Linked DNA regions of Homo sapiens. The protein of the gene in region 2 purifies or fractionates together with the protein of the main gene of each other region. This does not show direct contact. Each region holds a gene or a part of one and is shown on either strand. Other genes may lie near its edges.

Region 1 (7,356 bases), on a different chromosome or scaffold from region 2:
ATATTTAGTGGTTCCTTCAGGAGCTCTTGTAAGGTAGGCCTGTTGGTGACAAAATAGCTCAGCATTTGCTTGTCTGTAAAGGATTTTATTTCTCCTTAGCTTACGAAGCTTAGTTTGGCTGGATATGAAATTCTGGTTTGAAAATTCTTTTCTTTAAGTGTGTTGAATATTGGCATCCACTCTCTTCTGGCTTGTAGCAGTTCTGCAGAGAGATCCACTGTCAGTCTGATGGGCTTTCCTTTGTGGGTAACCCAACCTTTCTCTCTGGCTGCCCTTAACATTTTTTTCCTTCATTCCAACCTTGGTGAATCTGATGATTATGTGTCTTGGGGTTGCTCTTCTTGAGGAGTATCTTTGTGGTGTTCCCTGCATTTCCTGAATTTGAATGTTGGCCTGTCTTGCTAAGTTGGGGAAGTTCTCCTGGATAATATCCTGAAAAGTGTTTTCCAACTTGGTTCCATTCTCCCCGTCACTTTCAGGTACAACAATCAAACGTAGGTTTGGTCTTTTCACATAGTCCCATATTTCTTGGAGGCTTTGTTCATTCCCTTTCATTCTTTTTCTCTAATCTTGTTTTCACACTTTATTTCATTAAGTTGATCTTCAATCTCTGATATCCTTTCTTCCGCTTGATTGATTCAGCTATTGATACTTGTGTATGCTTCACGAATTTCTCATGCTGTGTTTTTCAGCTCCATCAGGTCATTTATGTTCTTCTCTAAACTGGTTATTCTAGTTAGCAATTCCTATAACCTTTTTTCAAGGTTCTTAACTTCCTCTTATTGGGTTAGAACATGCTCCTTTAGCTTGGAGGAGTTTGTTATTACCCACCTTCTGAAGCCTACTTCTGTCAGTTTGTCAGACTCATTCTCCATTCCAGTTTTGTTCCCTTGATGGTGAGGAATTGTGATCCTTTGAAGGAGAAGAGGTGCTCTGGTTTTTGGAATTTTCAGCCTTTTTGTGCTGGTTTTTCCTCATCTTTGTGGATTTATCTACCTTTGGTCTTTGATGTTGGTGACCTTGGGATAAGGTTTTTGTGTGGACGTCTTTTTTGTTGATATTGATGCTATTCGTTTCTGTTCGTTAGTTTTCCTTTTAATAGTCAGGCCCCTCTGCTTCAGGTCTTTTGGACTTTGCTGGCGGTCCACTCCAAACCGTGTTTGCTCGCGTATCACCAGCAGAGGCTGCAGAACAGCAAAGAACAGCCTGTTCCTTCCTCTGGAAGCTTTGTCCCAGAGGGGCACCTGCCGGATGCCAGTCAGAGCTCTCCTGTATGAAGTGTCTGTCGACCACTGCTGGGAGGTGTCTCCCAGTCAGGAGGCACAGGGGTCAGGGACCCACTTGAGGAACCATTCTGTCCCTTAGCAGAGCTCGAATGCTGTGCTGGGAGATCTGCTGTTCTCTTCGGAGCTGGCAGGCAAGAACATTTAAGTCTGCTGAAGCTGCACCCACAGCTGCCCCTTTCCCCAGGTGCTCTATCCCAGGGAGATGGGAGTTTTATCTACAAGCCCCTGACTGGATCTGCTGCCTTTCTCTGAGATATGCCCTGCCCAGAGTGGAGGAATCTAGAGAGAAAGTCTGGCTACAGTGGCTTTGTGGAGCTGCAGTGGGCTCTGCTCGGTTCAAACTTCCCAGTGGCTTTCTTTACACTGTCAGGGGAAAATCATCTACTCAAGCCTCAGTAATGGCGGATGCCCCTCCCCTCAACAAGCTCCAGCATCCCAGGTCGACTTCAGACTGCTGTGCTGGCAGCAAGAATTTCAAGCCAGTGGATCTTAGCTTGTTGGGCTCCATGGGGGTGGAATCCCCTGAGCTAGACCACTTGGCTTCCTGGCTTCAGCCCCCATTCCAGGGGAGTGAGCAGTTACGTCTCACTGGCATTCCAGGAGCCACTGAGGTATGAAAGAAACCTTCTGCAGGTATCTCAGTGTCTGCCCAAATGGCCGCCCAGTTTTGTGCTTGAAACCCAGGGCTCTGGTGGCATAGGCACCCAAGGGACTTTCCTGGTCTGTTGTTTGTGAAGACCATGGGAAAAGCATAGTATCTGGGCTGGAATGTACTGTTCCTCACAGCACAGTCCCTCATGGTTTCCCTTGGCTAGGGGAGGGAGTTCCCCAATCCCTTGCGCTCCCTGGGTGAGGTGACGCCCCACCCTGCTTCAGCTCGCCCTCTGTAGGCTGCACCCACTGTCTAACCAGTCCCAATGAGATAAGCTGGGTACCTCAGTCGGAAATGCAGAAATCACCTGCCTTCTGCATTGATCTTGCTGGGAGCTGCATACTGGAGCTGTTCCTATTCAGCCATCTTGCCCAGGTCCCCCGGCATGTTTTTTTTTTTTTTTTTTTAATTGAGATGGAGTCTCGTTTTGCCCAGGCTGGAGTGCAGTGGCATGATATCAGCTCACTGCAACATCTGCCTCCTAGGTTCAAGCAATTCTCCTGCCTCAGCCTCCTGAGTAGCTGGGATTACAGGTGCCTGCCACCACGCCTGGCTAATTTTTTTATTTTTAGTAGAGATGGGGTTTCGCCATGTTGGCCAGGCTGGTCTTGAACGCATGACCCCAAGTGATCTGCCCATCTCAGCCTCCCAAAGTGTTGGGATTACAAGCTTCAGCCACCAAGCCCGGCCTCTACATGGCATTTAAAGGTGAATTTATTATTTTAAAATAGGTTATTTGCAACTACCCCTCTTTCCCACAAAACATCATCTGGTAAGGTGGCTAGACATAAGAACCTAAGTGAATTAGAATTACTTTCTGAAAACTCATTGAAGATCTCTGTGTTAATTGGAGCTATTCAGGTACATGACTAGAATTGGAAATCCCTGGCCTGTTTGAACTTTGAAAGTTCTACATTTTAGAGATGAGAGAGACATGTTTTTATAATGTTCTACATTTCTGACCCTGAGTGCTGATTTGGGTGAATAGACCATTGGCTTTACCCATAGGAACCTGGCTGCCTGAGTCAGCAACATCTGCTCTCTGGAGCCTACTGGGAGGCTGGGGGTGGGGGAGGAAGATGGTCTAGGCCACTGAGTGGGGCAGCAGAGCCTGGGGACTAGGAGTGGTGAAAATCAGCCACATTGAACATATGGGTGTCTTCTCAAGGAAATGTGACATATGCGAGAGAAAATGGAGTCTAGAAGGGATGAGGAAGAGGTGATCAAGGGAGTGAGGGGTTCTTGGAGCCAAGGTTCCCTGATTAAGGCTAGTCAGGGTGGGCCTGCATTTCCCCACCCCAAATGCCCGCAATACTCCTGTAGACAACTCTTAGGAAATTCAGCACTTCATTATACACTGCTTCCACTGGAAAATCCTGCCACGTAAGCAGCTTTGGGTCCCAGCTAGATTGGAGATGATCAGTAAGGAACCCTAATGCTACCAACACAAGACAACTAAGAAAAGTGCAAATATTCATGAAAATCGTTGCCAACTGTTTTGTAATCCTCACCACAATCCTGCAAGGTGGACAGCAGCATCCTCACCACTTTTCAGACAGGTAAACAAAGGCTCAGAAAGGAAACAGTACCTGGTTGGAATCAGCACTGAAGCTTCAGCTACCTGCCTGCAGAGATGTGCTCATCTAGCAGTTTCTAGGAGACTAGGCTGGCGGCAGTGCCTGCTCTGATAAGGGAGGAGGAGGGGAGAGGCTTGCTGTGGTGGCTTGTAGGGGGTGTGTGTGTGTGTGTGTGTGTGTGTGTGTGTGTGTCTATTTGTGGGGTCATTTCCAGGGCTACATGTGAGTTTAAGTGTGTGTATATGGGTTGAGATATGGTGTATATGGATATTTGTCGGTCAGTTCTTGGAAAGTGTGTATATGAGTGTGTGTTGAGTGGGGTTGGGGGGTTAGTCCCTGAGCCGTGTGAATATGTGGATGGGGGCACTCGTGAGGGCAAATGGGCTCGGATTTTGTGCATGATTGTGTGTGTGTGTGTGTGTGTGTGAGCTTGAGATTCCAAGTATGTGGGGGAGGGAGGGGGCGGTGTCGGAGATCAATCCCTGGGCCATGTGTTTATAGTGTGTGTGTCTGCCCAGAAGAGAGTGGGTTACTGGGCTGTGCACGTCTGTGTAGGGTGAGTGTGTGTATGAGGGTGAATGAGTGTGGGAGGTGTCATTCCCTGGTCCGTGTGTAAGAGTGTGACCGCGCACGCCTTCGTGTGTGTCCCGGGTGTGTGGGGTCGGGGCGGTGACGAGGTGAGGGGGACGCCGGCCGAGCCCCGCCCTCCGCTGCAGGTGGGCCGGCCCCGCGGCGGGGCCGGCAGCGCTAGCTGTTCTTGGCTCGCGGCCGCGCCGGGCTCGCAGGGCTGGGCTCGGGCTGCGGGGCGGCGCCGGGACAGGAAGCGGAAAGCAGCAGTGCAGCGGCGGCGGCGGCGGGGCTCTGCCTCTCCAGGAGCCCAGCGCAGGCCGCAGAGCCGGGGCCGCTGTGAGCCGAGACCGCGGGCCGCGGAGCTCGGGCGGCCGGCGCGGAGGTGAGTCCCGCGAGAGGCCGAGCGCTGCGCGGCGGCGGTCCCCGGGGCAGACCGTTGGCTGGGAGACGCCCCCACCTCGGACCCCGCGTGCCCCTGCGCCCTCCTCCCGCATTCGCCCCGCCGGACTTCGACCCCGGGTGGCCGGCTCCCGCCTCGGGCCGGGGGCTCCCTCCCCTCCTCCGGAGCGCTCCGGGTAGTGCTTCCTCTGACTCCACTCTTCTCCCCATGCGTTGCGCCCCTCCTGGCCCTGCCGTGCGATCTCCGCCGCACCCCACTCCTTGGGGTCCCGGGGTTCCCTGCTCACACCTCGGACGTCCCTTTCTCCCCGGGCTGGCCTTTGGAGTGCGCCCCTTCGGTGCGCGTGCCGGGGCGGCGGGCAGGCCGGCAGGGAGTGGCCGAGCGTTGGAGGCACCGGGCGGCTGCAGCAGCCGTGCAGGGCGGGAGCCGGGCGCGCACCGGGGTTCCCACCCCTGGCGGGGCTCGACCCGGGCGCCGCCTGGCCCTTCGCCAGGAACCGGGACAGAGCTGGTCTGTGTGCACACCTCGCTCACAAAAAATTGAGCCGGCCCTGGAGGCCTGGGGGGCGAGTCCGGTTGCGCCTCGGAGAGCGCAACAGGCAGGTAGGAGTTTACTTTCAAAAACGCCGGGGTGGAGCAGAGGCGCCTGGCGGGTCTCTGCCCAAGGTGTCCCTGCTGGAGGAAATCTCACCGCGCCGGGGCAGCCTTCGCCACCGGCAGGACCTCATTTCCTTCTGCAGTCTTTGAACTGCCCCAAGCATCGCGCCTAGAGAAGTGTGAAGCTTTATAAAAATTTAAACGCGTCCGTGGTGGCGGCAGCAGTGGGGCGGAGCCGCGGCCTGGCTGCTGTGTGATGAGCAGATGAGACTTGGAGCTGAGGAATCTGTTGCTCAGTTTTCACTTCTCCAAACCAGGTCTAATGCCCACGCTGCGAAGGTGTTGTGAGCTCTCTTAGATTCTCCTTAGGAAGTGTTAGAGCGCCTTATGATGATGATTGTGTAGATGGCCCATGCATTTTGTTAAAACTCTTGACCTGGCTTTGGTTAGAAATGAATGTATTCTTAGACACTTAGTCCAAAAGCTAACAAACTGTAAAAGAATCTGGCATTTTCACTGACATGTTTATAAATTTTACGGGGCTGCTGAAAAATATTATAACTTGTATCACCAGTCAACAATGCTAATTAGCATTCTCCCGTCAGTGGGTGGGTTGAGTACACAGCTCCCAGGCTCTGCAAGTGAGATGGCAGAAATTGTCTGAATACAGGGAGAGGTAATTAGCCATTTTCTGTAACCACTAATTATAGAGTTTTTAGGGTTGAATTAAATCAATGTGATATAGTTGGGGCTTTGATTTGTGGGAGGAAACTGTTTCTTTTTCCAGTTCAAAGAAATAACACGCTTCACCTATCCATGAGCATTAAACATTCCCAAACGTTGATGTCTCTCAGTATAATTAGTGAAAACACTCAGTGTGGAATTTCACTATTAACAATGTTGGCAGTGAGGCTTGCTTGCAACTTAATTTGTAAGTAAAATGGGAGAAGAATTTTGAGAGTGATATATTTGTAAGGACTGCTTGCCAAGCAGTACATTTTTATTGTCTTATGTATTAAGCAACAGGACAAAACCATAAAGGAAATTTAAAGTTTCTTTACCAAGCAACAATTCCATGTCACCCTTTGTTTGAAGGATAAATGTGTTGAATGAAGAAGGCATCCTCCCCTTCATCATCCCCTTAACACACTTATATACACACACTGTGCTTGCTACCCTAGGCCTTATCAGCTATTTTGGTGGGATGGGCCCTTGTCACATTGTGTTTTAATTGGAGGTCTCCACATTGGGGCTGTGAGCTCATTGGGAGTTAGAACTATTTTAGATCCATTTCTTTTCTCCTGAGTGCCCCACGATGCTTGGAACACTGAACCTGTGAGTAGAAGTTGAAATTGCAAAATTCTTAGTGGGGTTATATGTGGTTTGGGACAATTTGTGATTGTTGCTTATACTCCTCTATATAAACAAACAATTCTAGTAATTGCTACAGTGCTGTCAATTTTCTGTAGCTAAGAACACAGGTTCTGGAGTTAGACTCTCAACGTTTAAGCCCTGGCTCCTGTGGCAGTCTGGTTTCCCTAACTAACATGATATTAATGTCTTATTTTTCTTAAACACTTGTTATGCGGATTAAGTGAGATATTACATGTAAGTGACTTAAAACAGCATCTAACACATAGTAAACACTTGACAACTAGAAACTGTTAGACTATTACCATCATCTCTGTAAAATCAGCTAGCTGGTTAGGGTCTCGCTGTATAGGGCATGTGATTTGGGCATCATGCTATTCTATTTTCCTTAAGATGGAAAAGATTAGGTGGGCTTGTGATTGGACCATGTTTCTGTTAGCAATATTGGTTTGGTGTTAGCAGTATTGGTTTGATGTTAGCAGTATTGAAGTTTGATGCAAGGATACATGTGTGTGCTGTTGTCTCTAGCAGTGTCCTTCTGAATCCCAGTTACAGGACAACAGTGATCAGACTCTGTACCATCAGATTTACAGAGGAGATAGTACTCATGAGATCTATTTTTCTGAAGTTTAAATATCTGGCAGGGAACAAGGGAGTCACTTGCAAGCAAATATACATCACATAACTCCAGACATGTTAACGATTCACACCTCTTCAGAAATCTGTACCCAGCTGCTGGAGGTGTTTCAGGGGTAATTAATGACTGGAGCCAAGAGAAGTTATTCTGGCAAGGTGAGTTGAAATCATTGGCGAAACAAGTAAAACAAAGTTGACATTTTCTTTCCTTGTAAATAATGACCCAGAATCATTCATTTATAAGCTGTTGTAATAAAAGAATCATTGG
Region 2 (7,021 bases):
GTTAATTTCTTAATACAAATGGAGAAGCAAAGAAAAGCAGAAGCAGAGATGACTACTTATTTGAGAAAAAAAAAGACTTATTCTAGGTCCGTGTCAAACTTCATTGAATAAATTATCTTCGTTCCTCTCTTCACTATTACAATAAGAGAAGTGGTCCCTATTCATTAATACTAGATTAAATCATGAACATTTTAAGTGTGCATCAGAACTAGAAGAGGTTTATCCATCACCAAAAGTAAAACTGATCAATCTATTACCAAAACAAGATAATAATTTCAGAGCAAAGATACTAGTATATAGAAATTATTCACCTGTAGGATAAAACCTTACAAAATAAGTAGAGTATATTAGTCGAATTAAACGGAATTGCTAAAATTCGACTACTTTCACCTGCAAAAATATCAGTTTCATGTGGTTCAACTTCATATATCACAAGATAAGACAAAGAAAGCAATTCCATCATAACAGCCAACTTGTACACACAACACACACACACACACACACACACACACACATGCAAACACAGACAAATGGAAAAAACACTGGCAAAAGGAAGCATTCTTTTATCTAAAATATACCCAAGTTTATTTGCACTAGAATTGATAACCAATAATGAAAGATATTTCCATATCACAAACTAGTCCAATCCCAGACTACACAGAAAATGTCCTCTGTAATATGAAACTATATATTGTTTCTCTATATAGAGAAAGCAAACTAGATAATAAATGCCAAATTACCTGATAAGGAACGATTGACATTAGAGTTGGAATCTCCAACAGTAACTGCAGTAACTCCAAAGGACCCAGTCTTAGCTGAGGTCACTGGGATGAAGGTCCTGCTTTCCTTCGTGTGTGGGTAATGAGAGGTATAACCTTCCAGTAAAGTAGTTGAGCCTTCAGAATGATTTGGGTCTCTTCTTCCACCTGTGACATCATTCCTATCTGTGTGGAGGTGGAATCAGTGATGAACCCGTATTTGTAAGATCACCACCCACCATGTGCTTGTCTCCAGAACACACAATTGCTGCAAAAGCTTTCCACTTGTTATCCATAAATAGGGAGAAATAGAGTGAAGTTTGTCATACTATTGAACAGAATAAATATTTTGCAATAGACACTACTTGGACATCACTCAACAGAAGAGATTTTGGTGATCTTAATACCCAGAATTGGCATTTGTTGCAACATCTGCTTGGGTTATTAGGTAAGGCTATGTCACTACAACTGTGATCTTGAAGTCAGCTGAGGTACTAGATAATCTTGAGTTCTTTCTCAATTGGATTCATCTTTGATGTAGTGGAGGAAACATATCATTGGATTGAAAGATAAAATTTTGCTGCCTGCAATTAAAATAGCAAATGCATGGTTTCAAAGGCCTGAGGCTACTAATTTAATTATTCTTTTCTTTTCCAGAAGGGACTGCTTTTTAGTCATCAGCACCATGGAGGTCCAGAGGACAAAAGGCAAAACAATATTATTGTGAGGAATGTAAAGTGATATAATCAGACATTTACGCCAATTATAAATCACACTGCAAAAGAACTGAAATCATAGCAAACAGTCTATTGGACCACAGCGCAATCAAATTTGAAATCAAGACTAAGAAACTCACTCAAAACCATACAATTACATGGAAATTAAATAACCTGCTCCTGAATGACTTCTGGGTAAATAATGAAATTAATGCAGAAATCAAGAAGTTCTTTGAAACTAATAAGAACAAAGATACAACATATCAGAATCTCTGGGACACAGCTAAGGCAGTAGTAAGAGGGAAATTTATAGCACTAAATTTAAACGCCCACATAAAAAAGTTAGAAAGATCTCAAGTTAACAAAAATAAATAAATAAAATAAATCATATATAAGCAATCCATTATTGTTAAAACAAATCACTAACTCTAGAGTGAAAGAAACCCAACTTTTAAGATGAAGAAATGTAGTTTGCACTTAATGTACGAAGAGGTATATAAAACAGAAAAATCAGAGAACCACCACCAGACGCACCTTTTGATTAAAAGTAACAGTGTAACGGCAGCTAATGGATGCACCTCCACCAAAGACACTGCAAAAGTACCCATAATTGATTGATTCTTATCAATAGCTGAAGCCAACTAGGTTTTATAATCCTTACTGCTTGATGTCAGAGTAGAAGTTGTTGGATGGTCTTTATCTTCTTCCAAGCCTTCATGTGATGTAGAGAAGCTCTGAGAATTACTCTGCTCTGTTTCAATGAGGAATGAATCCAGTGTTAATTTGAAGCTACGGTACAAATCCTGTTATCTGCTAGCAAGGAAAATCTAGCTAGAGTAGAGTCAGATGGATAGGTGCATAGGAAGACCAAGGTTTGTGCACACAATTCTCCTCTGATTGATAGAAATATACAGAAGAATTCTATTTTGCCCCTATTTGGTTCTGAAGACCCTTTATTTCTCAGTATAATCATCAAAGGTAAAGTGGCAAGGTGAAGACTGAGCCAAAACTTTGCCTATCCTGGATTGTCCAGGCTCAATTGCAGCATTGCTCCCAGTCACTCCAGAAAACCAGAGAACACAGAGACATGGAAAAAAGAATATTTGAATCCCAATGCTCCTATCAGTAACCAAAAGCACCTAACTGTGTGTCAAGAAATGTGACGGCAGGGAAAATGAACACTATGATAGCCTGTAGTCTAGTTGTAACCACAAAAGAAAAAGAAGCCTATCTAGAATAGCCTACTCAAGTAACACAGATCAAATTTATACAAGGAAATACTTAGCTACCTTGTAAAGGTCATTAAATTAAAGTTACCATTTTACTCCATTATTAAGTTATTTCTTAATTTCACCTGTGCATTGGGATTTTCATCACTGCACCAAGGAAACGCTTGCCTGGGCAAACACAGGGCCCTCAGTGACATATATCAACTGGAGGTTGACCCATTGCCCATATCTAAAATCACTTGGACTGTTTCAAGTTTATTTCTTTTGTGTTCTTTTAAGAAAGGTACTGACCTGAGTTGCAGGTGCAAAAACTTCATAAAGCACACCCATAAGCCATGCCCACCACCGAATAAATATTACAACCAGGAGAAAGACAGTCACTAAATCCCAAACCCAATGTCAGAACAAAAGCCAACAGTGACATAAAACGGAAATATAAGTCCTTCTTTGGCAAGGACCATTCATAGGCTTATTTGCATCTCCTTTGATGCTTAACGCTGTGCTATTTACATTGCTGACCATCAATACATGCTTGCTGATTTTTTTCCTTTGCCTAAAGGGCTCATATGAAGGACTCTGCCCATTATGTGTGGCAAGCAGTAAAATGGGACCTTCTTAATTCTAGATTTCTTTTGTATTCCTCAAAGAAATTATGAACGACTTTAGGCTGATCTCTAGGACATCCCTGCACATAGAGTAGAAATTAAGGCTACTAGAATTTGAACATTTCTTAGTGATAGAAAGAGATACTAGCAATGTTTTGTTGTTGTTGTTGTTCCAGGGATCCCGCCACCTTTGTTGATTGTCAATAACATGCCTTGCCTCTCCTCTGAGAACTGATGTGATCTCTAGGATTATCTGGCCCCAAAAATGTCTTTTTACAACCATGCAAGCAATCCTACCCCTCTTCTGCACTGGCTGGAGGAAAGATGGACATTGAAAGGAAATGGTCAGTTAAAACATAGAGAAATCACTATCCTGGAAGTGGGCATGTGTTTCACTGACATAACTACTTAGAGAATGAAAATGGAGTTGAATAGAGTCCTACTTTTTCTTAAAACACAAAGTCATTAAATCTGGAAGGCACAAAGAAATGAAGGGAAAATCAGGTTGAGAGACCTCCACAAGAAATACAGACAATGAAGACAGTTTCACACTCTGGGCTGAAGTAAGCCACATAGCACCATTCCACCACCAAAGCTCTGCATCTTGGCCAATAGCGAGTAAGAGATGAAGCAGGAATACAAGTCAATAAAGTGGCTGAGCATCGTTATTCTTACGCGTTGTCATTGAAAGAGGTCCTGTCCTGTCCAAATCTTCCACCAAACCTGTGTTTGGATTTGCAGTAGGCTGAAGCGTTATACTATGACTGGAGTCCATATCTGAAGGAATCAATATTAGTGTTATTGCTTGATTTCCCAAACCACTACCTGAAGGTGGCTTATGGTCTACAGCTGATTTTTTTAAATATTCACATCTGGCCAAGAGGAAAGAAAGCACATACTGACTATATCTCCCGAACTGAGATAGATTATTGTTTCATCAAAGAGCACCACAACAAGTAACTGGCTTTCCTTGAAGGGCCGAGTTATATGAAAGCTATGCTGTGTGTTTGTTTTTGCTGAGTCTGGAAGGACTCCACATGAGTGCATGATGGAACACCCAAATCTTGCAGAGAGACAGAAACATTGCCTTTTTTATAGAAACATGCAATCTGACACATGGAGAAAAGACAAAGTGTGCTGGCTCAGGCACCATTTTATCCCCTCCCCCTTACCAACCAAAGGGACTTTTAAAAATAGCCCTCTTCCCCCCTTTAGTCTTTTTTTCTTCACAAAGTGAATATGCAAATAAACAGAATCGTCATCCAAGACCACCTAGGTGGAGTTACAGAAAGTATACAGGGGCAAGAAATAAGAAGCAGTGGACGTCATTGAATTATTCTTCCCAAAAACCCAAGTATAAGCGGTCTTTAAAATTTAACATGTACAATGTTGAGTAGTGCAGAAATTTCACTGAAATACTTGTAAATGTTGTTTTTAACAGTTATCACAGATCTACTCTGCTGAAATAAGAAGTCTTGAGTGAAACAGAGGCCAAACAATTCATAAACCCCATCGATATTTCTGGCTGTCAATTCAGTCAAAGTCTATCCACATCACTGCCTCTGGGGGAGATTTAATCAGTCCCAGTGAAGCACCAGAATACTGGGTACCCAGGTCTGCACTGCAGCCTTTCAACACTAAATATTCAAGATTCAACACTAAATATTCAACACTAAAATATTAAAGATCTTTGTAGGACAAAAATGTGGTGACCCTGTTATCCCAGATTTCAAACAAGAGCAAGTGCTAACCTGAATCAAAACCACAAATGGACATTCTCCCAGAAAAAGTCCCACTTGATGATGGGCTCTAGACTCTTGTTCATCTTCCCTCTTATAAGTAGAGTCCTTCAAGAGTCATCATACCATTGTGTAGTTGAAGCCAATTGTATTGTCCTTGACATGTTCATTAATTTAATGGAATCTCTTTCTCTTCATCAGTACATAGAATTAATATTGATTCTGAAGATCTTTGCCTGGCTTGGTTTTCCCCCATGGGTGTCCTCAGAGCTCCAGCTGCCATGTGCAAACTCATGTGTGCTGGGTCTGCCTGTGGTACTTCAGTCACTCAACATAATGGCCCCTGCCTAGCCATTCAAACACATCTTCCCTTGTGAAAAATGGATCCACTCACTGACATATTCATTCCTTGGCTTTTCTTCCTTCACGTTTCTCCTTACAGGAGTCTCCTTCTTAGGAAAACTGCCCCCCCCACCAACCCCCACCACCCACTTCCTTTCTCTGACTATCCAGGGTTTTTTTATTTTTCATAAACCAAGTCCAATTCACCTTTCTGTGATGCTGTGGTGGGCAGGGAGGGGTTCTCAGAATTTCTTTAGCGTTTATTGTTGGCAACATTCATTTCATATCTATTACTTACTGCCTCACACAGATATATTTTGACAATAAGTTTTTTCTTTTGCCAACCCTCCTGCTAAATTCCTTACTTTCAGCTCAGAACTTCATATTCAGGTGAATATGAGTATCACTCCTACCAAGAAAACTAATTTTTGAAGAACCTCAGGTCCTTCAGGAAAGTAGTTTGGTCTAAAACCAAGGGCATATTTCTAGAAAAATAGTCAGCAGTCACTCAGTGGATTTCAAAAAACATAATATATAAAAATCTCAGAGGCTATTACCCATCCTTCTTCCTGCTTGATGACCTCGTCCCATGGGGTGTGAGATTGGGTTGAAGAAATCAGTCCAGGAACTGTCCTCTGGGCTTGGTGTTGTCCTTCCTTGCATTGGATGGCTGGTATGAGCTGAGGCTGCTGTGACCATGCAGTTTGAGCAATTGTCAAAGTGTTAATGGACGCTTGGTCAGGGATACACCGATTTTATTTTTAAAAAAGACTTTATTCTCTAGACAAGACAATGAAACCATCTTCCTTGTATAGAGGGCAAGGAAGTTGCATAAACGCAGAATGTTTCAGCAGCTTTGGGTTCACTCATGCTCATTTTCTTCTTAGCAATCAGCATGTGAACTGGAGGACACAAAAGCATTAACAACTCCCGCAGTGCAGAAAGGATGAGTTACCGACATCAAAGGAAGATGAAGGAGAAGTACTTCTTGACCCATGCCATGCTGCCACAGTCCCCTAAAGGCAGAAGTATAAAAGCCCGAGTGCATGATGTTATTCTGAGACAACCATATTCCAGCCAAATGCACATTAGGCTGGAAGTGATCTCAGGAAAGGAATCAGGTAACAGCTTTCCATGTGATCAATATGAAAGTCAATGCCATTTATCTCAAAAGCATGAATGGAATCCGTTAGAAGCATTACCTTCTAACAATGGGATTTATGGCATAAATGACATATAAGAAAGCAGCACATGCCTTGCTTCATTCTGAGCCAATGAAGAAGTATAGGTAGAAAAGATTACAATAGCATCCTCTTAGCAACAACTACACCACATAGACAATCACAGAATCCATTGCTCTGCCAGGAATTCATTTAGAACTTGCCATGCCCCAGAAGGACATGATGCATTATCTTCTATGTTGCAAATAGAAATATGGGAATATTTCTCACTGATACCAAGTGAGAATATGGAATTCACATTCTTTATAAGGCAGGACACATTTTAATACTTATGTCACACAGACAAAAGAATCCTGCATGGGAGCTTGCAAAGCCAAGTTATCTGGTATCACTTAGAGATGATGATAAGACTGGATTCCAATTTCCACAATCTCACAATTCAAGAATAGAG
Region 3 (7,967 bases), on a different chromosome or scaffold from region 2:
GGGCCCGCGGGCACCAGGCTGCCGCGGAAGGGGGACTGAGGACTGGCAGAGCTGCCGGCGCCGGACCCTGCGACAACCGGGGTCCCCCAGGACAGTAGGCCCGGCTCTGCCCGTAGCCCTGAGAATTAAACGCCGGCTCTCCCTGCAGTGGTTTGGGCTCCGGGCTGTGAGCTCCTCTGTCCATTTCTGTCTCCCCCGGGTCCTCACCCCCCTCTCCCTCCACCCGCCCTCCTGCCTCTCCAGTTAGTCCGCTCCTCGCCGCCCTTCCCAAGGAACACGAACCAATACTCTGCATCTGGAGGAGGGGAGGTCAGGTTTAATGTCCCAGTCCTCGGGCGCTGTCCAGCGCCTGCCAGGCCCCACGGCCGTGTCGCTCACTCGGGTGGCGGCCGACCCGCCTCATCAGGGCCTTCCGCGGAGGCCGTCCCGTCGTCCTCGGGCACCAGCTCCACGTCCAGCTCCAGCTGCCCCATGTAGAGGCCCACGGCGCACGCCCAGAGCAGGCTGGCGGCCAGCACGGCGCCCGCGCCCACGGCCGCGCCCCCCAGCGTCAGCTGCATGGGTCCTCGCAGCGCCGCCAGGCCCACGGCGTACGAGGCGCTGCCCCACACCACGCACAGGCCGCCCAGCAGGAAGAAGCCTGCGGGAGAGGCAGGGTAGCAACAGGGCCAAGGTCGGGGGATGGTCTGGGAGCAAAGCCAGGGTTGAGGAGACAGGAACAGAGGCAGGGCCGTGCCAGGGGCTAGCCTGCATCTTTGAGAATCAGATCGGAGGGGAGGGGACCATAACCATGTCCTGGGCCACCCATTCAGATGGACCTAGTGCCTATGGGAGGGGTGTCTTCTGGTGGGGGAAGAATGGGGGTTCTATACTTACTACTGGGAGTGGGATGGGGTAGGAGAGTCTACTCTCACCAGGGCAGGTGATAGGGGCTCTGCATTCCCTGGTTCCGTGGGGCGAGAGGGGGGGTCTGCACTCACCATATGCTGCTTCCCGACCCATGTCACTCTGCATGAAGGAGATGACCCCGATGCCCGATGCCAGGAGGCCATTGCGGAACCAGGAGAGGAAGGCTGGAGGGAGGGGGACATGGGGGGATTAACATCACCCCCAACCCTACCTCCTCAATCCCCCTTACCCAGTCAAACTGAGGGGCCTCCCTTCAGCTCACCCCATCCCATCCAGCCGCAAGGCAAGCCCATCCCAAATCCTCACCTCTTCCAGGAAGCCGCTCACCTAACCATATCCCCCCACATCCTCTCTGGCCTCCACCTCAGTGCCCCTCTCCCCCAAACTCTGTAACACTAAGGATTCAAGGGCCGGGTGTGGTGGCTCACCCCTGTAATCCCAGCACTTTGGGAGGCCAAGGCAGGCGGATCATGAGGTCAGGAGTTTGAGACCAGCCTGGCCAACATAGTCAAACCCTGTCTCTACTAAAAATGTTAAAATTAGCAGGGTGTGGTAGCACGTGCTTGTAGTCCCAGCTACTCAGGAAGCTGAGGGAGGAGAATCACTTGAATCCAGGAGGTAGAGGTTGCAGCGAGCCAAGATCATGCCACTGCACTCCAGCCTGGGCGACAGAGTGAGACTCCGTCTCAAAAAAAATAAAGGATTCAAGATAGTCCCTGCAGAATGTGGAGGACAATCTAGGGGCAAAGTTGCAGAACCTCCATCTGAGGAGTCATCTTGGCCAAACCCCTCCCTCTACGTGTACCCCCACGGCCTGCCCACTCACTTCTTTCTCAGAACTCTGGGACAAACTGTTTCCTAATCCAGGCCGCTCTTCAGCCTCGCCCTTCTTTTCCTTCAAATGCCGCCATCTCCTACCGAGTATGGCCTGGGCCAATCCCATCCATGTCCTACCGAGTATGGCCTGGGCCAATCCCACCCACGTCCGTCCCCATTCACGTCCTTTACAAACAGCCCACCACACCCTATATCTAGATGCCCGGTCCTGGCCTAGTGAGGTGACTCACACCTATAATCCCAGCACTTTGGGAAGCCAAGGCAGGAGGATTCTCTGAGCCCAAGAGTTCAGACCAGCCTGGGCAACAAAGCAAGACCCCGTCTCTACATAAATTAAAATAGTTGGGTGCGGTGGTGTATGCCTGTAGCTCCAGCTAAGCAGGAGGCTGAGGCAAGAGGATAGCTTGAGCCCAGGAGTTCAAGGCTGCAGTGGGCTACGATTGCGCCACTGCGGTCCAGCCTCGGTGACAGAGCAAGACACCGTCATTAAAAAAATAAAATTAAAAAAAAAACAAACATGGCCAGTCCGCTCCATTCTGGACCTCGCCTCCGTCACAAGCCCCGCCCTCTGCAGCCTAGATCACCTCCCCCTCCAATCAGCAGAGAGCTTTCTCCCGATTGGTTGTCCCCTTCTCCAATCCTGAACTTCCCCCTCTTCTGCGGGGATCCACACTCCCGCTCTCTGCACAGTGGTGGCCTCTGCAATCGGGATGGACCCATCTTGTACCCAACTCCACAGACCCTAAGCTCTCCCTGAAGCCCCTCTCCCCACGGCAGGCGCGATTCTACGAGGCTGCCTCGCGCAACCCTACCACCCCCTCCAATCCCTACGGCGCCCCGTTACCCGGGGTCCTCGTCCTCCCCGCAAGCCCATCCCCTCTGCGGGCACCTGCGCTCTTGCAGTCTGCGCTTCCGTGCGCTCACACTGAAGCCCTTCTCGGAGCCGAGCCCGGGCCCCGTTTCCTGCAGAAGCCCCCGCCCCATCAAGGTCCCACGCGAGCCCGGGACCCCCGTCCCATCCGCACCGCCCCCACCCCTAGCCACCGACCTGTCTCGTGCGCTTTTCGGAGGAGCCAGGCGTCCGCACGATCCAGCTCGGACACTGGGGGCGGCGAAGCCCCGGCGCGGGGACCGTGGCCGGGGGCGAAGGACCCCCGGGCGCCCCCGCTCCGGGGCCGCTGAGGCGGCAGTAGCGACCTCCGGAAGCGAAGACGGGCAAGGCGAGCGGCCCGAGCCCACCACCAGCCGCCTCCCATGATTCGCACTACGGCCGCCGCGCGCCGTACCGCCCCACCGGCCTCCGGTAGGTTGCAACCCATGTCACTCAGGATGAATGGCTTACCCATTGGCTATGCGCTCGCCACTCAGGTCCGGCGTGAACTGTCCATTGGTCGGAATGGCAGTGATTCCCTCCTCTGTCATCTAGGCCGGTAGTGCCCGTCCCTCCTTGATTTTGTACCGGACTACGAATCCCAGCGATCATTGCGCTCGGGGAAAGCCGATATTCAGAAGTCGCAGGCGAGATGTCTGCTGGGAATTGTAGTTTTAATTCTATCTTTTTTAACGGAGTACATGCCGAGCACCTATTGTAGTTGTTTCTTGGTTGTTTCTCTTTCTTTCTTTCTCTTTCTTTCTTTCTTTCTTTTTCTTTCTTTCTCTTTCTTTCTTTCCTTCTTTCTTTCTTTCTCTCTTTCTTTTTCCCTCCCTCCCTCCCTTCCCTCCCCTCCTTCCTTCCTTCCCTCCTTCCTTTTTTTTCCCCGCCCCGAGACCGAGTCTTGCTCTGTCGCCCAGGCTGGAGTGCAGTGGTGCGATCTCGGCTCACTGCAACCTCCACCTCCCGGGTTCAAGCGATTCTCCTGCGTCAGCCTCCTGAGTAGCTGGGATTATAGGCATGCGCCACCACGCCCAGCTAATTTTTGTATCTTTAGTAGAGACAGGGTTTCACCATGTTGGCCAGGCTGGTCTCGAACTCCTGACCTCAAGTGATCCAACCGCCTCGGCCTCCAAAAGTGCTGGGATTACAGGCGTGAGCCACCGTGCCCGGCCAGGTCTGTCTCTTTAAGACAGATTTGTTTTCTTTGCCCTAACCCATTCCGGGATTCAGCTTTGCCTTCTCTCATCAGCATAAACCTTTTCACTAGCCAGGAATGTGAAAAATGTGTCTGGAATATTTTCAATTTGCACTTAATCCCATTTAAAGCTTCACATTCATTGCAAGCCTGCAGGCTATGCAGTGCAGTCCATTTGAACTCCCTCCTCAAGTGTAACCCCCTTGCTAGCTCCCCTACTTTTCCTCTTCATAAAATCCAAGCCCGGGCCAGGCACGGTGGCTCACATCTGTAATCCCACCACTTTGGGAGTCTGAGGCGGGCAGATCACGAGATCAGGAGTTCGAGACCAGCCTGACCAACATGGTGAAACCCCATCTCTACTAAAAATACAAAAATTAGGCATGGTGGCAGGCACCTGTAATCCCAGCTACTTGTGAGGCTGAGGCAGGAGAATCGTTTCATGCGCGTCCATGTGAAGAGACCACCAAACAGGCTTTGTGTGAGCAAGATGGCTGTTTATTTCACCTGGCTGCAGGCAGGCTGAGTCCGAAAAGAGAGTCAGCAAAGGGTGGTGGATTATCATTAGTTCTTAGAGGTTTTGGGATAGGCGGTGAAGTTAAGAGCAATGTTTTGCGGGCAGGGGTGGATCTCACACAGTACATTCTCAAGGGTGGGGAGAATTACAAAGAACCTTCTTAAGGGTGGGGGAGATTACAAAGTACATTGATCAGTTAGGTGGGGCAGGAACAAATCACAATGGTGGAATGTCATCAGTTAAGGCTATTTTTACTTCTTTTGTGGATCTTCAGTTACTTCAGGCCATCTGGATGTATACGTGCAAGTCACAGGTGATGCGATGGCTTGGCTTGGGCTCAGAGGCCTGACATTTCTGCCTTCTTTTATTAATAAGAAAAATAAAACAAAATAGTGTTGAAGTCTTGGGGGGTGGTATGGAGAGAGAATGGGCGATGTTTCTCGGGGCTGCTTCAAGCAGGATTAGGGGCGGCGTGCGAACCTAAAGTGGGAGAGATTAAGCTGAAGGAAGATTTTGTGGTAAGGGGTGATATTGTGGGGTTGTTAGAAGAAACATTTGTTGTGTAGAAGTATTGGTGATGGCCTGGGTACAGTTTTGTATGAATTGAAAAACTAAATGGAATAAGAGAAGGAGAAAAACAGGTATAAAAGGTCTAAGAATTGGGAGGACCTAGGACATCTGATTAGAGAGTGCCTAAGGAGATTCAGCATAGTCCTGCCAGCAAAGATTATTTGTTTACTTCAGGAGTTAAGAGTGGCAGTTTGGGGATAGCATGAGGAGATATCAGCTGTGATGGCTTGGAGAAACAGTGTAAACCAGCAGTGTAAACAAGAGCAGGGCACGTATGAGTAGTTGAGAACGGAGAATAGGAGTATGACTAGACAGAAAATAGTAGGGATGACAAGTTTTTTTGGGGCACAGTCTAAGTTGGTCCGGTGTCTGGAATGAGACTGGGGCCTAATAAAAAGGATTGTCCATACAGGAGCTCAAATAGGCTGTACCCTGCAGCATTCTGAGAAGCAAAAGAGGTAAAAGTATTGTCCAGTCCTTTTTAAGTTGGTGGCTGAGCTTGGTGAGGTGTGTTTTTAAAAGACCTTTAGTCCGTTCTACTTTTCTTGAAGACAGAGGACCGTAAGGGATATAAAGGTTTCACTGAATACTAAGAGCCTGAAAAACTGCTTGGCTGATTTGACTAATAAAGGCTGGTCTGTTATCAGACTGTATAGAGGTGGGAAGGCTAAACTGAGGAATTATGTCTGACAGAAGGGAAGAAATGACTGCGGTGGCCTTCTCAGACCTTGTAGAAAAGGCCTGTACCTATCCAGTGAAAGTGTCTGCCTAGACTAAGAGGTATTTTGGTTTCCTGACTCGGGGCATGTTGAGTAAAGCTAATTTGCCAGTCCTGGGTGGGGGCAAATCCCTGAGCTTGATGTGTAGGGAAGGGAGGGGGCCTGAATAATCCCTGAGGAGTAGTAGAACAGCAGATGGAACACTGAGAAGTGATTTCCTTGAGGACAGATTTCCACGATGGAAAGGAAATGAGAGGTTCTAAGAGGCGGGCTCATGGCTTGTACTATAGCATAGCCTGCCTTTGCTGGTGTGTGGCGATTAGGCCTGGTGGAACTGCCATCAATAAATCAAGCGTGATCAGAGTGAGGAACAGGAAAGAAGGAAATATGGGGAAATGGGGTGAATATCAGGTGGATCAGAGAGATACAGTCATGGGGGTCAGGTGTGGTATCAGGAATAATGTGGGAGGCCAGATTGAAGTCCGGGCCAGGAACAATGGTAATTGTGGGACTTAAGAGTGAGTGCAGCTGAAGGAGCCGGGGAGCAGAAAGTACATGCGTCAGGTATGAGGAAGAAAATAGATTTTGGAAGTTATGAGAAATGTAGAGAGTGAGTTGAGCATAGTTTGTGATTTTTAGGGCTCTAAAAGTATTAAAGCAGCGGCAGCCGCTGCATGCAGACATGAGGGCTAGGCTAAAACAGTAAGGTCAAGTTGTTTGGACAGAAAGGCTACAGGGTGCGGTCCTGGCTCTTGTGTAAGAATTCTGACCACACTAACCATGCCTAGGAAGGAAAGGAGTTGTTTTGTAAGGGATTGAGGTTTGGGAGATTAATTGGACACGATCAGCAGGGAGAGCACGTGTGTTTTTATGAAGAATTATGCTGAGATAGGTAACAGATGAGGATGAAATTTGGGCTTGACTGAAGTAATGGGGGCTGTCTGTGAAGCCTTGCGGCAGTACAGCCCAGGTAATTTGCTGAGCCTAATGGGTGTCAGGGTCAGTCCAAGTGAAAGCGAAGAGAGGCTGGGATGACGGGTGCAAAGGAATAGTAAAGAAAGCATGTTTGAGATCCAGAACAGAATAATGGGTTGTGGAGGGAGGTATTGAGGATAGGAGAGTATATGGGTTTGGCACCATGGGGTGGATAGGCAAAACAATTTGGTTGATAAGGCACAGATCCTGAACTAACTTGTAAGGCTTGTCTGGTTTTAGGACAGGTAAAATGGGGGAATTGTAAGGAGAGTTTATAGGCTTAAAAGGCCTTACCCATTGAGCAGGGTAAGGGTGATTAGGTTTTAATGAGATGGTAAGGGGTGCATGATCGGTTGCCAAGGAAGGAGTAGAGGTATCTTATACTTGTGGGTTAAGGTGGGGGAATACAAGAGGAGGACGCAAAGGAGGCTTTGGATTGGGAAGAAGGGCAGCAATGAGATGTAGCTGTAATCCAGGAATAGTCAGGGAAGCAGATGATTTAGTTAAAGTGTCTCGGCCTAATAAGGGAACTGGGCAGGTGGAGATAACTAAAAGGAGTGCTTTAAAGAGTATCGTCTAAGTTGGCACCAGAGTTGGGGAGTTTTAAGAGGTTTAGAAGCCTGGCTGTCAATACCCACAACAGTTATGGAAGCAAGGGAAACAGGCCCTTGAAAAGAAGGTAATGTGGAGTGGGTAGCCTCTGTATTGATTAAGGGGACGGACTTATCTTCCACTGTGATAGTTACTCGAAGCTCGGCGTCTGTGATGGTCTACGGGGCTTTCGAGGTGATCGGGCAGCGTCAGTCTTCAGCCGCCAAGCCGAGAAGGAGTCAGTCGGAGAGCCTTGGGCCAGAGTTCCAGGGGCTCTGGGAGTGGCTGCCAGGTGAGTTGAACAGTCCGATTTTCAGTGGGGTCCCACACAGATGGGACGCGGCCTAGGAGGAATCCCAGGCTGCGGGCATTCCTTGGCCCAGTGGCCAAGATTTCCAGCATGTGTAGCAAGTTCCTGGGGGAGGAGGTTCTGGAGGAACGCCTGGCTGCTGCGGTTCGGGCGTTTGGAAGTTCTTGCGTGCTGGAGATGTGGCTGGGGTTTGTCTCACAGTGGAGGCAAGGAATTGCAACTTTTTTTCTGTTATTGTACACCTTGAAGGCGAGGTTAATTAAGTCCTGTTGTGGGGTTTGAGAGCCAGATTCCAATTTTTGGAGTTTTATTTAATGTCAGGAGCAGATTGGGTAATAAAATGTATATTGAGAATAAGACGGCCTTTTGACCTTTTAGGGTCTAGGGCTATAAAGCGTCTCAGGGTTGCTGTCAAACGAGCCATGTACTGGGCTGGATTTTTATATTTGAAGAAAAAGAGCCTAAACGCC
Region 4 (7,021 bases), on a different chromosome or scaffold from region 2:
TTACAAGTACAGAACAAGTGGACTTCAAAAGTCCAAAGCATTTGATTAAAAAAAAAAAAAAAAAAAAAGAATCACTGCTTCAAATGGAATGTTCTATTTGTGTTTAACCCACTCCCTCCAGGACTGGAGCAGGGGTTGTGAGTGGAGACAGTGGCCAATGACCTACAGAGCAGTTTTAGCACCAGCAGCAAAGAGAAGAGAAGGGAGGGCCAGTATATCTCTGAGACAGCTAAGCTAGGGGAGGATGAGGTCTAACTCTGGGACAAAGAGGTAAACAACTTTCCCAGCTTCTGGTTCCTTCCTGTTGCGAGATCCACTGGAGATTTAGGCAATTACCTTCCCTGGATTAATGGAGCATTCAGGGACAATGAATGTCTGGGAGTGAGAGGAAAAAGGAAGAAAATGCCATTACTCCTCGTCCTCATATGGCTTAGAATTTATATATGGCATTTGTTTTTCCAACTCTTCGTAAGAGATGCTCTTATCATGCACCCCATTTGCCAGAAAGATCGTACGTAACTCAGGACACAGGGCTAAGACTGGGAAACGCTTGGTGGAAAGGCTCTGGTTTCGGGCAATGAAAAGGCAGGGGTCCAAATGCCTTCCTTGTGTAGCTGACCCCAAAGCCCCAGTGACGTTGCTCTCAAAGCTTATTACAGACCAGCACCACCCATCCCTGCAGCCCTCTGTTCCCAGCTCACCTCCACTTTGTGACCTCTGTTACTAGTCCTGGGGGATGTGGCTAGATCCCTACTGAGATGGAGTGTGTGTGCCTGAAGCGTGAGGAATGATCCCATTCGGGGGCAACTGAGCCTGCCCACAGGAACTTGAGCCCCCGAGACAGTGGTCTCCTTCCCAGTAGACTGGCCCACGAAGACTGGTGCCATGATTACCTTCAAGATCTGGACATAAGGCAGGTTGTCTGGGCCAATCTTGCTCCCATTCACCTCGATGTGCTTTAGCCACTGGATGTGCGGCTGCGGGTCACTGTACACCTTACACATGAACTCCACGTTGCTACCCAGGGCCACTGTTTTGTTGGCGGGCAACCCTGCTTGCAGGATGGGCCGGTGAGGGGACCGCTCTGTGGAAGATGGGAGAGGAGGCACTTGTCATGGGGACCTTGCCATGGCTAAAGAGGGGTGGGCTCACCTGCGCCCCACTTGGCTTTCCCAGTGATGGGTTGTAAACCTCCCAGCACTTCTGCTGAGCCCAAGCCTCTCAAAACAGAGCTGGGGAAAGGGACACCCTCTCTTCAGGCCCTAAGCCATCAGGATCCTCCTCCCCAAGGCAGTCATCATATTTACAGTCACAGTAAGTCGCTCATGCTTTAATGGAGAACCTTCTAATTCAGTTGCACCCCCAGACCTCAGCACAACCTGCTCCTCCTTAAAAAACCAGAGTCACTTTGACTCCTGCTATTCAAAGTGTGGTCCACGAGCAGTGCTACCAGCATCCCCTAGGAGCTTGTTAGAAACGCGGAATCTCAGATCTTACCCCAACCTCTTGGATCAGAATCTCCTTTTTACCTTTTTTTTTTTTAAAGGCAGGGTCTCACTCTGTCACCCATGCTGGAGCACAAGGGTGTCATCATAGCTCACTGCAGCTTCGAATTCCTGGGCTCAAGTGATCTTCCCACCTCAGTAGCCTCAGTTAACTCAGCTGGTACTACAAGTACATGACACTGCACTAGGCTAATTTTTAAATTTTTTTATAGAGACAGGGTCTCACTGTGTTGCCCAGGCTGGTCTCACACTCCTGGCCTCAAGCAATCCTCCAGCCTTGGCCTCCTAAAGTGATGGGATCACAGGCGTGAGTAATCCCATCATGCCACCTGGAGCTCATAAGCCACTGCTCCTGGCCACAATCTCCTTCTTAGACCATATCATCATAATCAAGAAGAACACTGGCTGAGAGATTCTGTACCCAATGATCTCTAGGGAGTGAGTTTCAGAACTCCTAGAAGGAAAAGGTTGCGGTAATAGCTCCAAGAGGCTCAATGTTCTTCCCAGAGTCTCCTGTGATGCCCTGAAGTTGGCACAGGTGTGCAGTTCTGCATTAGCAAGGTGTCTGACCTCTCTGAGCCTATGCGCCTGTGCTCCTGTGCAGGGCTAGACTAATACTGCCCACCTTGCAGGTGTGCCATGAGCATTACAGGGCAGGTATTTAAGGAGCCTGGCATCTTGCTAGCATTAAGCGACAGCTCCTATTACGCTACATTTAACACCTCTCCAACAACGCCTCCTTCAGGACAGACTCTGAACAGCACCTTCAATTTCACAGTGACAACCAGCTTTGACCGTGTTACTGTCTGATCTTAACTCTATTTTACAGATAAGAAAAGTGAGGCTCAAAAGGGAGAAGTGACCTGCTCAAGGTGACAAAGCCAAGAAGTGCCAATCGCTATCCTGACTCTGCCCCTAAGAAACCTGGACACCCCGGCTGTGTTCTCCAAGCCTGGCTCTTCCCACTAAACTCATTCCTCCTGCTGCCTCTGCCCTCTTACCCACGACATCCAGCTGGTATGTGTGGTTGATGCTGCCGTACTCATTCTCCACAATGCAGGTGTAGTTGCCCTTGTCAGAGGGCACCACAGAGTCCATTATGATGCTCCAGGTGGCATAACGGACCTGAGGGGAAATGCCAAAGGGATACATTGAGGGTCCAGAGGAAAATGCAGGCCCCATGACAATGTCGGCACCCCGTGGCACCTGCCCTCCATATCAGAGCCTGGTGGCACAGGGCCCCAGGCTGCAGGGTTGGCTAGGACAAGGCGTGGATTGCCCCCCTACCAGCCCGTTCACACTCTGCAAGCTGGCAGATGGGGTGTAAAGACTCCAGAAGTCTCCACTGTGACGTTCAAGATCATTCGTGATCCGGACAGATGTGCCTTCTGCAAACACTCCCAAATACACCAAGAATGTTCCCAACTGTGCACCTCTCCTATTACACTAAGAATCCAGCCCCCACTGTCCTTGACAGCTCATTTCAAAAACCATCTCCTCCAGTCCAGTCTCTGGTCAGAACTGTGCTCACCCTTTCCTCTCTGCCTACCAAAGCACTGATCACAGTCTACTTTTTACGGTAGCTGCTCATGGACATTTGCCTCCTATCAGACTGCAAAATTTTTATGGGCAGGAACGCTATCTTGCAGCATTTAAAGCATGGTGTCTTGCATGTAGTGAGTGCATGGTGAATTAATTTAAAATATTTCTGGCTGGGTGCGGTGGCTCAAGCCTGTAATCCCAGCTCTTTGGGAGGCCCAGGCGGACAGATCACTTGAGGTCATGAGTTCAAGACCAGCCTGGCCAACATGGGGAAACCCCGTCTCTACTAAAAATACAAAAATTAGCTGGGAATGGTGGCTGCACATCCCAGGTACTCGGGAGGCTGAGGCAGGAGAATGGCATGAACCTGGGAGGTGGAGCTTGCAGTGAGCCAAGATGGCACCACTGCACTCCAGCCTGGGTGACAGAGTGAGACTCCGTCTAAAAAAAAAAAAAAAATGCTTACACCCTTTAAGTTAGTAATTTCACTTGTAACAATCTGTCCTAAGGAAGCACGCTTAAAAAAATGCTGACAGAGATTCACTGCAACATTATTTATTATGGTGAAAAACCAGAAAATACCTAATATCACAAAATAGTTCATTAAATTATAGGACTTTTTCTGTTGTTTTTTGGAGACAGAGTCTCACTCTGTCACCCAGGCTAGAGTGAAATGACGTGATCTCAGCTCACTGCAACCTCTGTCTCCTGGGTTCAAGCAATCTCCTGCTTCAGCCTCCCCAGTAGCTGGGATTACAGGAGCCTGCCACCACACATGGCTAATTTTTTGTATTTTTAGTACAGAGGAGGTTTCGCCATGTTGCCCAGGCTGGTCTCGAACTCCTGAGCTCAGGCAATCCGCCCACCTCGGCCTCCCAAAGTGATAGGATTTTAGGCGTGAGCCACCATGCCCAGCCAAATTATGGGATTTTAAAATAATGGAATCTTATACAGTCATGAAAAATTATGTTTCAAATATTCATGCTTGAAATATATCAGGAAAAGACTCATGTTAACAAATGACAAGGCAAGGAAATTACATACATGATGTGATCAACTATGTAAAAACCATATTACAGAAAGAAGACTGAAGAAATGTTTAAACTTTATTTGCATTTTTTTGTATTTAAAAATTTTAATGAATAACCTGTATAGGTGGAAAGTATTACTTAAAAAAATGAAAAGCATGTAATCAGGACTTCCTAACTCGGCCTCCCCTGTTCCCATTACTCTAACTTTCGCATGCACACACACGTACCTTGTAGCCTCCAATTCTGTGGTCAGGTTTGAATTCTTTGCCATTTTTCAACCAGCGCAGTGTGGGGTTTGGGGTCCCACTGGAAGGGCATTTGAACTTCACTGTCTTGGCAGCCGGCACTGCATGCAATTTCTTTTCCATCTTTTCTGGGGATGTCCAATATGGAGCTACGGCTGCCCGGGGAAAGCCAAGAGAGACAGGCAGGGTGGAGAGGAGCAGCTGGTCAGGCTCAGGAGCAGGGCCCAGGCCAGGACCTGGAGGTGTCTTGCCCATCTGCCCAACACCTGTGAGCAGTGCCTGGCACTTAGCAGAACAGGCACCGTGACCCCATGTGCCCTCCTCTTCCTCCCCTTTCAGCCTTCCCCTCCCCTCTTAAACCCAATGCCCAGACCCAAAGGGCAGTAAGATAGGAAACAGTGTCTCACGCATACGGTTTGGTTTGGTGTTATCTGTTTCTTTCTCCTCTGAAGAGGAGTCATCATCATCATCATCATCCTCCGAGGAGGGGAGAGCATCTATGGGAAGAAGAAGGGGCACTGAGGTTCCTCCTAGGGACCCCTAGATTTCACCAAGGCTAGTGCAGTTCCAGATGAACACGGACACCCTCCCCATGGGGATCCCAGTCCCACTGCTCCCTTAGTGATGATCTCTTGGTGGGATGGAAACTGTTTAAGAACAGTTCCTGTGCGTGTTTGCTTCCTTCCCCGAAGCACTGCCCCCACTGCCTGGAAGCCTTCACACTGGGTGGTTCCATCAGGGTCAGCTGTTCCTATTTAACTTAATTCCGTCCTACATTCAAAGGCGCTTTCTCAACTTGTGGTGCCACCTGGGTGTGCTGGAGCCAGGCAACCTGTATTCTTCTTTGGACGGCTGACTATAGGGAAACCCAGGCAGGTCTAGACACACTGTGGCTAGATGCTATTTCCAAAGGATGGGCTAAACACCCCACAGTCAGAATTTTTCTAGCATGTGTCTACTAAGGTTTGGGGGCTGCCCTCCTTAATCAGAGCAGATAGGGCACCCACCACCCCAGCAGCTGCCAACACCTCTCCCCAATAAGTATTTATTTCTTGTAAGAACACGCTTGATACACATGTGGTCACCCATCAGGGTTCATGCCAGATCTTTCTCCAGTCCTTCCTATCACCTTTGGGGATCTGCTGCCAAGTCCACACCCTGAGGTGCATAAATGGCATAAAGAAAATTTCAGCTCCACTTCCTCAACTCCTAGTTTTGTGAAAGTCACATTCTAAGAGTGGCAAGTTCCCAAGTTCACAGAGCTCCAGGGCTCCCTGGCTGCCCTCGCACAGCTCCCTTGCGGTGCACCTGGGTTCCTCTCCAGCAGAGCAGGGATACCACCACCTGTTCAGGGCCTCTAATCACTAAGCCGAGTACCAAGTCCAAATGGCAAGGGAGTGATGGAGTGGAAGCTGGCCGAGCACCACTTAGCCTCCTGGAGATCTGGGCAAGCTGTGGTGGAAAAAAATCACAGGGTCTTAACATCCCAAGAGCCCTGGCAATCACCTCCGAGGTGTGTCCTGGAAGCCCCAGATCTCCGGCCCTGGGGCCCACCCCACCTAGTCACCTCTCTGAGAGCCAAGCCACGCGGCAGGCAGGGAGCAATGTTAGTGGGCAGCAGTTTCTGAAGCAGAGTGGGGGCAGATCACGGAGGGGGAGGAGGTTCACCTTCCTCTGAAACTGGCAGAGAGGGCTGGAGGGGGTGGGTCTAGGGAGGGGCAAGGGCAGGGCTTGGCTACCAACCTGAAACATTGACGGAGAAGTAGGTGGTGTCACTGCCCGAGGGGCTGCTGGTTACGCAAGCATAGAGGCCGGAGTCTGCGGGCACGGAGTCCTGCACCTCCACCTCCTCCCCTGTGATGCGGGTGCGGTTGCTTTCCGCCAGCTGCACCCCGTCCCGCAGCCAGTTGATGCTCTGCACATCGTCCCGCAGCCGACAGCGAAGCTGCAGCAGGTCACCGGGGTGGACCAGGAAGGACTCCACTTCCACAGGGGCTCCCCAGGGCTGGGCTGCAGCCACCACGGGGCCGGGAAGGGAAGCCAAGGGGCGAGAGAGGAAGACAGGGAGAGGGGAGGAGGGGAGAGACAAAGGGAATTACGCTGGCCACACGGAGCCGCACCATCCTGGGCATCACTTACTGGAGGCTACTGAGCCAGGGCAGTGGGAATTGGAGCATGGGTCAGTGGGGAAAACAGCTGGCTGCCTGGGAACCCCCATCTCTTTTCCACCCCACTCCTCCAAAAGTCAAAGGAAGAAAGAGGCAAAGTTAGGAAGCAGCTGTAGCAGCATTAAGCGCATTTCATTTCCCCCATCCTAAGGGGAAAGGTCGGCCCTCCCCAGGACTTCTTTGTGTCCGGAGTTGCCCCCTCCCCAGATGCTCAGTTCTTTGCCAAGATTGCCACTTGCCAGAGGAACACCCCATTTCCTTTGGGATAGCTCAGCCTCACCCTTCCCTAGCAACAGCTGAACAAACCCCGCCCCTCAAAACCCCAGCAGCCCCTGCCCAAGTCGAGAGAAGGCAATTTGTCAACTGGGGGCTGACCAGGATGCGTGTGATTCGGAGAGGGTGGGGGTCTGGCCCTCGACGCGTCAGATGCACATGCTGGGGGGGCAGCCCAAGGAGAGGTCAGCTCAGGGAACCTCTCGCTAACAGGTGTCAGGGCAGGGGATTTGGAGCTGTTGACTATATTAGGACGG

Evidence for each region.
Region 1: the proteins of CD44 (region 2) and VANGL1 purify together in Homo sapiens (co-immunoprecipitation; 3 studies listed by BioGRID and IntAct, with this or other methods). This does not show direct contact.
Region 3: the proteins of CD44 (region 2) and TMEM160 purify together in Homo sapiens (co-immunoprecipitation; 3 studies listed by BioGRID and IntAct, with this or other methods). This does not show direct contact.
Region 4: the proteins of CD44 (region 2) and FGFR1 purify together in Homo sapiens (affinity purification with mass spectrometry; 4 studies listed by BioGRID and IntAct, with this or other methods). This does not show direct contact.

The regions. Positions count from the first base shown.
Region 1 is NC_000001.11:115,637,620-115,644,975, forward strand, and holds the start of VANGL1 (vang-like protein 1), read left to right. Parts: upstream 1-4,350; 5' UTR 4,351-4,467; intron 4,468-5,009; exon of another isoform or gene 5,010-5,087; intron 5,088-7,356.
Region 2 is NC_000011.10:35,205,169-35,212,189, reverse strand, and holds part of CD44 (CD44 antigen isoform 1 precursor), read right to left. Parts: intron 6,406-7,021; coding exon of another isoform or gene 6,350-6,405; exon of another isoform or gene 6,143-6,349; intron 6,079-6,142; coding exon 5,947-6,078; intron 4,086-5,946; coding exon 3,984-4,085; intron 2,573-3,983; exon of another isoform or gene 2,226-2,572; coding exon 2,136-2,225; exon of another isoform or gene 1,416-2,135; intron 945-1,415; coding exon 741-944; intron 1-740. UniProt on the Homo sapiens protein: Cell-surface receptor that plays a role in cell-cell interactions, cell adhesion and migration, helping them to sense and respond to changes in the tissue microenvironment.
Region 3 is NC_000019.10:47,045,613-47,053,579, forward strand, and holds TMEM160 (transmembrane protein 160 precursor), read right to left. Parts: upstream 3,013-7,967; 5' UTR 3,003-3,012; coding exon 2,795-3,002; intron 1,074-2,794; coding exon 981-1,073; intron 641-980; coding exon 375-640; 3' UTR 297-374; downstream 1-296. Other genes in the region: NPAS1 (neuronal PAS domain-containing protein 1), read left to right, coding at 1-39.
Region 4 is NC_000008.11:38,423,616-38,430,636, forward strand, and holds part of FGFR1 (fibroblast growth factor receptor 1 isoform 1 precursor), read right to left. Parts: intron 6,334-7,021; coding exon 6,067-6,333; intron 4,821-6,066; coding exon 4,731-4,820; intron 4,479-4,730; coding exon 4,306-4,478; intron 2,631-4,305; coding exon 2,507-2,630; intron 1,085-2,506; coding exon 894-1,084; intron 1-893. UniProt on the Homo sapiens protein: Tyrosine-protein kinase that acts as a cell-surface receptor for fibroblast growth factors and plays an essential role in the regulation of embryonic development, cell proliferation, differentiation and migration.